Homo sapiens: one gene and its partners. The protein of the gene in region 3 interacts with the protein of the main gene of each other region in a biochemical or structural test. Each region holds a gene or a part of one and is shown on either strand. Other genes may lie near its edges. The genes, in order: DIAPH1, SF3A3 and TCERG1.

Region 1 (3,750 bases), 4.9 Mb from region 3:
AGACTGTGTCTTATTTCCCTCCCCATGCAGAGACTTTTGGGCTCTAGCTTCATTCCAAACTGCCCCACCTCGGCTGGCTTTCTCCACATGGGCAAGCTCGTCTGGAAACTTGAGGACATCGGGATAGTCATTCTCACACAACTCAGCCAAGAAGTGTAACAACGTCATCTTCTGATCTGTGGACTTGGTGTCTCGAAGCTTAGAGAAAGAGGAGAAACTGTTAAATCCTGACATGTCCAAGATGGCCTCCTGCCAACACTGAACTCATAGAGGCTACAGCCTTCCTTGTGTTGTCCTGCCCTACCTCTTTGGCTCACCTTACAGAGGAAGCTGATATTGAAGCCAAAAGCACCAGCATTTCTGGAGCCAGCATTCATGTAATTTCCAACAAGCAAGGTAATCTCTAGGAGATTGGAAAAGCTCTCACTCTTACGTAACTCCTCACATGCAGCAGTGACAGACACAATCTCTGGCTTGATATTCTCCACTTGCTCGCTGAATTGTAGCTTGAAGAGAATGGCATTGAGGCGAGGCCGCAGTCGGGGCACAGTGCCCATCTAGTAAAGAACACAAGCAGTTCCATTACAGTCAAAAGAGGGGGAAGTCAGAAAAAGATACACGCTTGAGCCTCCTATGGGAGGATCACAGCTCCAGAGCAGGGAGAAGAGAGAGATTAAGACAGGTTCAAAAACAGACAAGCGGCAAGGAGCATATGCCCAGGCTGCTCTCTAGAGGGGAGGGGAATACAGGAGGTGGAAAACCGCTTACTGCCACAGGCCTCACTCACCACCACGCCAAACTGCTCTGACTCAGCCAGGTCATCATATTCATCCTTCAGTTCAGAAAGCATTTTTAACTGCTCTGGCTCTGGCATTTGCTTAATGAGGTTCTGAAAGACAGAAGAGACATCTCAGCTGGAGGGGAATTCGCTAACAACTCAAGCCTAAACAACTTTTACTCTGTTGTCAGTCCCACACTCTGCTCAAGGACCATACAGAAAGAAACATATGGTGGGAGAAGAGAGGCAGCTACTGAGATGGGGGTACTTTTGCAAAATATACCAGAAGTAATCTGACCACCAGAGAAAAGGCAGTTTCTCAAAGCCAGCATTCATAAGTCAGCAATGCTGGAGGAGGATCCTCTTCATCTACACAGAGATGAGGCCAGTGCCCAGCGACACAGAAGAGCCTGCTCCAGCAGAACCACCTTACTCCTTACCTGGATCATAGACTCAGTCAGAACAGCCTCATTCACCTCCAGGATGACATTCTTAATCTCTTGATAGGGCATGCGGAAGGAACCCAAAAAGATTGCTGCCAGAAAATGAGATATTAAGACATGTTCTTCTCGGTCTGTTCCCGCTTCCAACCCATCCTGCAAACCTATGCTGGATAATCTTCCTAACAGGGCTCTTTTAGGCCAGGCACAGTGGCTCATGCCTGTAATCCCAGCACTTCGGGAGGCCAAGGTGGGCGGATCGCTTGAGCCCCAGAGTTTGAGACCAGCCTAGGCAACATGGGGAAACCTCATCTCCACAAAAAATACAAAAACTAGCCAGGCGTGGTGGTGTGCACCTGTAGTCCCAGCTGCTCGGCAGGCTGAGGTGGGAGGATCACCTGAGCCCAGGAGGTCAAGGTTGCAGTGAGCTGTGACCGCACCACTGCACTCCAGCCTGAGCAACAGAGCGAGACCCGTCTCAAAAAAGTATATATACGTCAAAGACTTTCACCCCACTCTACTTTAGTTCCCCACTCTCAGGACGTGATCCTCAAAGCTGCCTTGACCTTAAACCACCATATCCTATTCCCTAACAAATACATCCTGTTTTTTCAACTCTCCCTTTCTAATCTCTCACTTGACTCTTCAGCCTTATCAGGACCTCTCTTTCCAGTCTCCTGACCATTCTGTTTTCACTGATATATCAGTTCCACTCTGCCTTTCCTATTTCATTAGGAGCCTCTAAACCATCAGTTCATTTGCTCTCTACTATGACTCCCATTAGTATTATTACTCCTACTATTACCTTTCTTTTGCTTCCTTCTCCTTCTGGGTCCCTGGTCAGTCTAGCCATTTCATTTCTCTACTCTGACACCTAGGCTGATGCGGACTGGAGTCTATGAATTTGCAGTAGCACCAATGATAACTGGGGCCTCCGCGCTGTTAGCAATTCTCTTTGTGTGTCCCAATTCCACTTTCTCCCACCCTTCTTGGCAGGTCCTCCAACATATTCCCACTTTCCCCACTGCCCCACCACTTCCCCATTTGTTCCAGGAAGACCCTGCTCCTCTTCACTGAGAAAAATCAAAGCCACTGGTCAAATTACTTGCTCAGCTTTCTCTTATCCTACTTAAAAATAAAGCACTAGGGCTCTTGGTTAGAGCCAGACTAGAAAAGACTCAGATAAGCCTTTTGGAATCGCCTAGAAGAAAACTATACCAACATTTTCGTAAGCTTATAGGAGGCATGTGTTCATATATTTACGTCTAAGTATATATACTCCCATGTACTCATCCTTTCCTCATGTGTCAACAGAAGAGGCAGCCCCACAGACCTTTCCCTTCATCATATATACATAATCAAGTTTTTTAAATCTTACTCAATGTTCCTCTCTAAATTACCAGTTTCTCTTTCTTTCACTTTATAGCAATCTAAACTAGCCTATTCTCTCTCACTTCCACGACTCTGATTTATTCCATAACCACAAAGCCAATGAAAAGATGGCAGCCACTTAGAGAATATACTTTAAGTAAGACACCAACCTGCTACCTCTCACATCCACCTCCCCGAAAAGACAATCTGTTCCTGCTGAATTTTCCTATTTCAGTAAATGGTACCACTTTCCGCAGAGTGACCTAAACCTCAAAGCACCTTCTCCTTTATCCCAAGTCAATCACTAAATTCCATTAATTTTACCTTCTCTCTCTCTCTCTCTTTTTTTTTTTTGAGACAGCATCTCACTCTGTTGCCCAAGCTAGAGTGCAGCAGTGCAGTCATAGCTCATGGCAGCCTGGACCTCCCAGCCTCAAGCAATCCTCCACCCACCTCAGTCTCCCAAGTGGCTGGGACTATAGGCATGCGGCACCACATCTGGCTAGTTTTTTATTTTAATTTATTTATTGCTTGAGATGAGTCTCACTCTGTCACCCAGGCTGGTGTGCAACGGCATGGTGTTGGCTCACTGCAACCTCCGCTTCCCGGGTTCAAGCGATTCTCCTGCCTCAGCCCCATGAGTAGCTGGGATTATAGGCGTGCTCCACCATGCCCAGCTAATTTTTCTATTTTTAGTAGAGACAGCATTTTGCCATGTTGACCAGGCTCGTCTCGAACTCCTGACCTCCAGTGATCCACCTGCCTCAGCCTCCCAAAGTGCTGGGATTACAGCCATGAGCCACTGCACCTAGCCTAATTCTACCATCTTAATATCCTCTCCCTCTCTTATTCTCATCACCTTAGTTTCAGGCCCTGATCACATCTCACCTAGTTTAAAACAATGACATAACTCATCTCTGCCTATAGTCTCCCCTTACCTTAGCAATCCAGCCTCAAAATCACTGCCAAAGCAGCCTTCCTAAAAATTACACAGGATAAAAAGCAATCCAGCCTCAAAATCACTGCCAAAGCAGCCTTCCTAAAAATTACACAGGATAATCTCACTCATTTTCCTGATTTAAACTTTACTCAGTTGTACTCAACTACTTGCAGTTCCTGAACTGCACAATGTTATCTCATGCTCTCATACATGCTGATCCC
Region 2 (3,750 bases), on a different chromosome or scaffold from region 3:
GCAACATGGCAAAACCCCATCTCTACACAAAATACAAAAAATTAGCTGGGCATGGTGGCACACGCCTGTAGTCCCAAGTACTTGGTGGGGCTGAGGCGGGATCCATCACTTGAGTCCAAGAGGTCTAGGCTACAGTGAGCCAAGATCGCGCCACTGCACTCCAGCCTGGGTGACAAAGTGAGACCCTGTCTCAAAAAAAAAAAAAAAAAAAAAAGATTTATTTTGGCAAAGGTAAAATATGCTTGCTGTATTGATAATGGACTGGGTACAATGGCTCATGCCTGTATCCCAACACTGTGGGAGGCCGAGACAGGAGGATCATTTGAGGTCAGGAGTTTGTGACCAGCCTGGGCAACACTGCAAGACCCCATCTTTACAAAAAAAGACAAAAATTAGCCAAGTGTGGTGGTGGTATGCACCTGTAGCCTCAAATACTCAGAAGGCTAAGGCAGGAGATCACTTGAGCCCAGAAGTCGAGGTTGCAGTGAGCAAAGATCATACCACTGCACTCCAGACTGGGCAACATGGTAAGACCTCATCTCAAAATAAAAAAAAAAGTATTAATAAATAAATATGCTTCTTGTTTTCACTGTAGAAAACTTTCATTTTGAATAGTATTTCATTCCAAGAGAGCATATCACCTCTTTAATATTTACATAAGAGTTTTAAAACACAAGGAAGACACTTTACAATGGCTTCATGTCTGCTAGTTCCAGCCTACTGTCCTGACTCACTTCGAGAATCAGAACCTCTCTGCCCTTTCCCAGGCCTTACCTCAGATGCCTTCAGGTTAATGTACTTGAGGTAACAGTCATGGAGATCGAGATAACGACCATATCCCTCTTCATCTGTGAACTCCACCAAGTCTGAGGGAATCAGATACATCAATGATTCAGTTTCTACAGACCACTCTCTTGGACTTACCTTTTCAAATGGACTGTGTGTTCCTAGTTTCCTGAGGCAGCACTTCACCCAAATGTCTTCCCTTTGCTCACAATATAACCTCCAATAAGTTAAGTGAGATCAAAAGTGAGTTTTCTCTTACAAGGTAACAAGGACTGACTCATTTTAGTATTGTGAACTAAAGTGAACAATCCTTGGCTTTCCAAGCCAGTAAATTTGAGGTAGGAGAGAACAAAATGAACATTTTGCCCAAGACCAACTTAGGATGTCACTCTAGCCCAGAAACCAGCAAAGACAAAACCAGCAAGAAATCCTGGCTATAAATATCTCTGAGGCCATGGCTGCAAATCTGAGCTGTCATTAACCTGTATTTTTGCTGGTGCTGAATGAAATTTTCACCCCTACTTACTTTGTGCCTCTTCACTTGGATTCTCTCGAGCCTTCAGGAGTTCCTCAAATTCCACTGACATTGGCACACAGATCTGAGGGGAAAAGTAAAAGCTCAGGTGGATTTTTCTTTTTGCTTTTGAGATGGATTCTCACTCTGTGGCCCAGGCTGGAGTGCACTGGCACAATCTTGGCTCACTGCAACCTCTACCTCCCGGGTTCAAGCGATTGTCCTGCCTCGGCCACCCGAGTAGCTGGGATTATAGGCACACACCACCACGCTTGGCTAATTCTTGTATTTTTAGTAGAGACAGGGTTTTGCCATGTTGCCCAGGCTGGTCTCAAACTCCTAAGCTCAAGTGATCTGCCCACCTTGGCCTCCCAAAGTGCTGGGATTACAGGCATGAGCCACTGTGCCTGACCGCAGGCGGATTTTTCAATGTAAAAGTTGCAAGATCACAGAAATGAAATACACAGAAAGTTGGACTTCTGATGATTTATTTGGCCTTGATTTTTCACTAGGAAATCTACTACTGTTCTCCAATTACCTTGTTTTTCCCCGCTTTTTTGTACTGTTTGAGTAAAACCCACTAAAGTAACACATGCTCACAAAAACTCAAAAGTCCACCTTTATTAATTCTCCTGAGAACAGGTGACCACTGTTAACAGAGCTTTTGCTATGCCAGTGGTTCCCAAACTTTGCTGCACATTAGAATCACCTGGGGGAGTTTTTTTTTTAAATCCTGATGCACCTGATACCAATTAAATCAAAGGAGGGCAGGTATCAGTACTTTTTAAAGATCCCCAGGTGGCTCAAATATGCACAAAGTTTGGAAAACAGTGCTCTATGTATTTAAATATATGTATTTGTACAAGTACATTCATGCCTGCATAGGTTTTTGTTTTTGTTTTTTTAACATAAAAGACTTGCGTCTGACATTTAGTATATCTTGGGCATCCTTCTAATCAGTTATTTAAGCATTTATTCCTCATTACCTTTTGACCATGGCTGGAATAAGGTTAACACATCAGAATGGTATTCATTTATTCTCCCTTGGTTAGCAGAAGACCTCATTCTCTATCCTCCAAGGGGGCTATGTGTGTGAGGGTCCCTTCATTTACCTCCGCGCTATGTATTGCAATAAACAGCCTCTATTTTTTGCTGTTTTTAGTCTCTTCCTTTTTCCCTGTGCTCCTTCAAATAAGTATGCTTCTCTGTCTTCCCCAATACCCTCCTGTTTCTCCCCTTCTTTTTCCTACCAGACTTTTTTTTTTTTTTTTTTTGACGGAGTCTTGCTCTGTTGCCCAGGCTGGAGTGCAGTGGCGTGATCTCAGCTCACTGCAACCTCCATGTCCTGGGTTCAAGCGATTCTCCTGTCTCAGCCTCATGAGAAGCTGGGATCACAGGCGTGCACCACCATGCCCGGCTAATTTTTGTGTTTTTAGTAGAGAGAGGTTTCACCATTTTGGCCAGGCTGGTCTCCAACTCCTGACCTCAGATGATCGACCCGCCTCGGCCTCCCAAAGTGCTGGGATTACAGGCGTGAGTCACTGCACCTGGCTACCAGCCTTTCAAATGCATGTTCCATACTCCATACTTCTACTTCCCCATTACCCATCTTTACCTTGTGACCAGATTTCCATTCATACTACTTTAATGAAGCAGCAATCCTGGCAGATATAAATCAATAACAGTTGACACCATGACTGCCTTTCTGAAACTCTCTTTTGCTTAACTTCAGTAAGGCAACACCACCTGGAGTGGTCATGTGACCTTTCTGATGGAAGCCTTCCCAGGCCCTTTTTCTCTTTACCTTATTATAAGTGAGCTCCAGGGCATATGAGGGCCGGGCGCGGTGGCTCATGCCTGTAATCCCAGCACTTTGGGAGGCCGAGGTGGGCGGATCACAAGGTCAGGAGATAGAGACTATCCTGGCTAACATGGTGAAACCCTGTCTCAACTAAAAAATACATAAAATTAGCCAGGCGTGGTGGCAGGCACCTGTAGTCCCAGCTACTCAGGAGGCTGAGGAAGGAGAATGGCATGAACTCGGGAGGTGGAGCTTGCAGTGAGCCGAGATCATGCCACTGCACTCCAGCCTGGGCAACAGAGCGAGACTCCATCTCAAAAAAAAAAAAAAAAAAAAAGACAGAGTTAGGAACACAATTTATTGGGGAGAGTAATTTCTGTGAAAGATAAAAAGGAAGAGAAAGTAGGATTAGGACAGGATAGCCTAGACCACAATGCAGATTGGACAAAATCTTGACCAACCCAACGGGGAGCCATGGAGCAAAGATTATTCATCAGAGGAGTCTCAGAGTGGACCAAATTGCTGGGCCCTAGTACCCATACTGTGCTCAGTCACTGGCTGGGAGCTGCCCACAAAATGTGGCCTTGACTTCTTTTTTTTGAGACAAAGTCTCACTCTTGTCCCCCAGGATGGAGTGCAATGGCGCAAT
Region 3 (3,750 bases):
ACCATGCCCGGCTAATTTTTTTTTTTTTTTTTTTTTTTTGTATTTGAGTAGAGATGGGGTTTCACCATGTTGGCAATGGTCTTGATCTCCTGACCGCATGATCTGCCCTCCTCGGCCTCCCAAAGTGCTAGGATTATAGGCATGAGCCACAGCGCCTGGCCGGAAGGAATGTTCTATTAAAAGGGGGATGTGTATTCTTCAGATATGTCAATGTTATCCATAAAAGACAAAGAAATGTTGTGGAAATGCTCCAGATTAAAAAAGGTTAAAGAGTCATAACAACACAATTTTTTTTTTTTTTTTTAGAGACAGGGTTTTGCCATGTTGGCAAGGCTGGTCTTGAACTCCTGACCTCAGGCGATCTGCACACCTCAGCCTCCCAAAGTACTGGGATTACATGCGTGAGCCACCACGCTCGGCCAATAACAACACAATTTTAACTCTAGATTGGATTCTGTACTAACAGGAGGAAATGCCATACAGGGCATTGCCAGATCAACTGACAACACTGGAATATGCACAACAGATTAAAGTATTATATCATTACAAATTTATGAAGTTGATAATTAGGCTGTAGTTAAGTAAAATAATATCTCTATTCTTAGAAAATACTGAAGTATTGAAGGGTAAAAAGCCATAGGTATACCTTACCCTCACAGTTCAGAATAACAAAGAGGATGCACGTGTGCACGCAAATAGTAAAGCAGAAGAGGTAAAATATTAACATTGAATAACACCCTAGCTTTATTTTTGCGACATTTTGTAAATTTGAAATTACTTCCAAAGTTTTTAAAGGGGGCAGGGGGGTCACTTGGCAGATCATTAGTAGTCTCTACCTAAAGGGAAAGCCTTTCCCTGTAGGGCACACTGCCCCACCACCCCTCACTCTCAACACCCTAATGTATTTTCTCCACAGCATTTAAGCAAATAAGTAATATCACATGAGATAGTATTATCTATCTCTTCCCCCAAGTGCTTTTGTAAAGAGAATTATTAACTCCTAAAAGTGCTTACTATGAGCCAGGCAGTGCTTGCTCTAAGCTCTTTTCAAAAATTAAGTCTTTTAATCATCAAAACAACCCAATGAGATGGATACTATTAATCTCAGTTTATAGATAAAGAACTAAAGCAAAGAAGTCACTTGTCCAAGGCCACACAACTGGTTCAGTACTAAAGCCAGGATTCAGGTGGCCCACGGTGGCTCGCGCCTGTAATCCCAGCACTTTGGTGGCCAAGGCAGGCAGATCATTTGAAGTCAGGAGTTCAACATCAACCTGGACAACATGGTGAAACCCCATCTCTACTAAAAATACAAAAAAATTAGCCGGGCATGGTGGTGCACGCCTGTAATCTCAGCTACTTGGGAGGCGGAAGCAGAAGAATTGCTTGAGCCTGGGAAGTGGAGGTTGCAGTGAGCCGAGATTGTGCCACTGCACTCCAGCCTGGGCAATAGAGCAAAACTCTGTCTCAATAATAAATAAATAAAGAAAATAAAGAGAGGATTCAAACACAGGCAAATGCTCCTTCAGAGTAGGAATTGTGTTCACTCTTGTATCCCTAGCACATAGATCTGTACATAGTAGGGCTCAATAAATATTAGTATTAGTATTTGTTGCATGAACCACTGAATACCTAGGTGATACAGTACCCAAACTACCTTACAAGTAGCGTATGCAGGATCTTAAAAAAATTATTTTTACAATTCCACCCATTTACTGAGTACCTATCATGGTATTCCCAGTAGCTACTATACATCTACATTATACATAAAAAACCTACATTTCTGTCCTCAAGAGAGGAATTAACAATTATATTCTTTATATATTTGAAAATAATCATTCTTATAGTCTCTCGTTACCAGGCTCTTTCAACTTTCTGACATTTTTCAACCCTCTGCTTATAGATTACCCTTTGAACTTTCTCTAAATTTACCACATCATCGTTCAATTCTGACACACACCAAAAAAATCCTAATAAAGAACCAATTTAGGCCAGGAGCAGTGGCTCATGCCTGTAATCTCAGCACTTTGGGAGGCAGAGGTGGGCAGATCACTTGAAGCCAGGAGTTCGAGACCAGCCTGGCCAACATAGCAAAACCCTGAGTCTATTAAAAATACAAAAATCAGCCAAGCATGGTGGTGCATGCCTGTAGCCCCAGCTACTTGAGAGGTTGAGGCATGACAATCACTCAAACCCAGGAGGCAGAGGTTGCAGTGAGCCGATATTGCACCACCGCATTCCAGCCTGGGCAAGAGAGCGAGACTCAAGTCTCAAAAAAATTAAAAAATTAAAAAAAAAAAAAACTAATTTGCCTTCTGGACTTGTTTACAGTCCTGGTATAACCAGGACTGTAAACAAGTCCAGAACTACTACACCAAGTATATTTAATCAAATTTGCAAATGATCCTACAATCCAAAGGTTAGAAAATATGAGTTAAAAAGGAATATGGGCCGGACGCCCCCCGGTGGCTCACGCCTGTAATCCTAGCACTTTGGGAAGCCAAGGCAGGTGGATCACCTGAGGTCAGAAATTCGAGACCATCCTGGCCAACATAGTGAAACCCCCACTCTACTAAAAATACAGAAATTAGCCGGGTGTGGTGGTGCTTCCCTGTAATCCCAGCTACTCAAGAGGCTGAGGCAGGAGAACAGGAGGAACCTGACAGGTGGAGGCTGCAGTAAGCCAAGATCACACCACTGCACTTCAGCCTGGGAGACAGAGCAAGACATTGTCTTAAAAGAAAAAAAAAAAAAAAAGGAATATGGATCGCATCAAAATAATCAGAAGGTCTTTTTCAAATTATATGCATCCCCAAAAGACACAGGCCACTGTTACTGAAGGAATGTCCAAACTTTTAGGGCAAAAAAAAGATAATCACCAAGGAAAGACACTCTGTTTCAGGCTTGAGTTAATAATGTACCCTACTCTTAGATTTTCTTTCCATCTGCCTCTCCTTTTTTCAAAAAGTCTACAGTATTCATTTCTGTACAATTTCATACTTCCTGGTTACAGCTTGAAGTTAAGCATTTAAGATCCAGAACCATAAAAAAGCCCTGTTAGGACTCCGTCTTTTGTTGTCAGGCTAGTTACATAATTTCTGAGCCTTGAGTTTCCTCAGATGTGAATGAGTAAGGAACAGAAAAGGTATCTGATATCACTGTTCAATGAGATAATCCCGGTGAAACATTTAGGGTGGTAGCTGGTACACAGTAAACTACTTCAACTATCATTACTTTCATTCCCCCACAAAACCTAGCAGTGTTTATCTGTAAAAGGCATTTCATTATTAATTTGTTATGGTTTTCAAAAGTCTGCCACTAAAATGGTGACAAAATTCACATAATTTCCTTTTTTGAATAGCCTGAAGTTGCCATTTTCTGATGTTAATTACGCACAGAACATGGGCTGGGCTCTTTATATTATACTGCTTCATCACAACAACCTCACCAGAACCTGCAATGAGGATTAAATGAGCTAATAAAGTACTTGGAATAGTGCTTAGTATGTAAGTGCTATCTAAGTTATTAGCTATCATTACTGTTTCTGTAACATTAGGACAGTAATAGTACTGGTAAGTGTTAAATAATATTAATATTAGTAATGTTAGCTATTATTACTATAATTATTATATCAGGCCCTGTATAACCTGGCCCACATTAACCTTTCCACAAATTCTAGTCTTTTCCTTTAAATATTTCAAGTTTATTACTTTGAAGCCTCTGCACCTGTTCTCTTTGCCGAGCATGTTC

The links.
Region 1: the proteins of TCERG1 (region 3) and DIAPH1 form a complex in vitro, tested with the Homo sapiens proteins (one study listed by BioGRID).
Region 2: the proteins of TCERG1 (region 3) and SF3A3 form a complex in vitro, tested with the Homo sapiens proteins (one study listed by BioGRID).

Annotation. Positions count from the first base shown.
Region 1 is NC_000005.10:141,528,385-141,532,134, forward strand, and holds part of DIAPH1 (protein diaphanous homolog 1), read right to left. Parts: intron 1,314-3,750; coding exon 1,219-1,313; intron 890-1,218; coding exon 788-889; intron 558-787; coding exon 318-557; intron 199-317; coding exon 69-198; intron 1-68. UniProt on the Homo sapiens protein: Actin nucleation and elongation factor required for the assembly of F-actin structures, such as actin cables and stress fibers. Binds to the barbed end of the actin filament and slows down actin polymerization and depolymerization.
Region 2 is NC_000001.11:37,983,395-37,987,144, forward strand, and holds part of SF3A3 (splicing factor 3A subunit 3), read right to left. Parts: intron 1,386-3,750; coding exon 1,313-1,385; intron 867-1,312; coding exon 775-866; intron 1-774. UniProt on the Homo sapiens protein: Component of the 17S U2 SnRNP complex of the spliceosome, a large ribonucleoprotein complex that removes introns from transcribed pre-mRNAs.
Region 3 is NC_000005.10:146,450,327-146,454,076, reverse strand, and holds part of TCERG1 (transcription elongation regulator 1), read right to left. Parts: intron 1-3,750. UniProt on the Homo sapiens protein: Transcription factor that binds RNA polymerase II and inhibits the elongation of transcripts from target promoters. Regulates transcription elongation in a TATA box-dependent manner.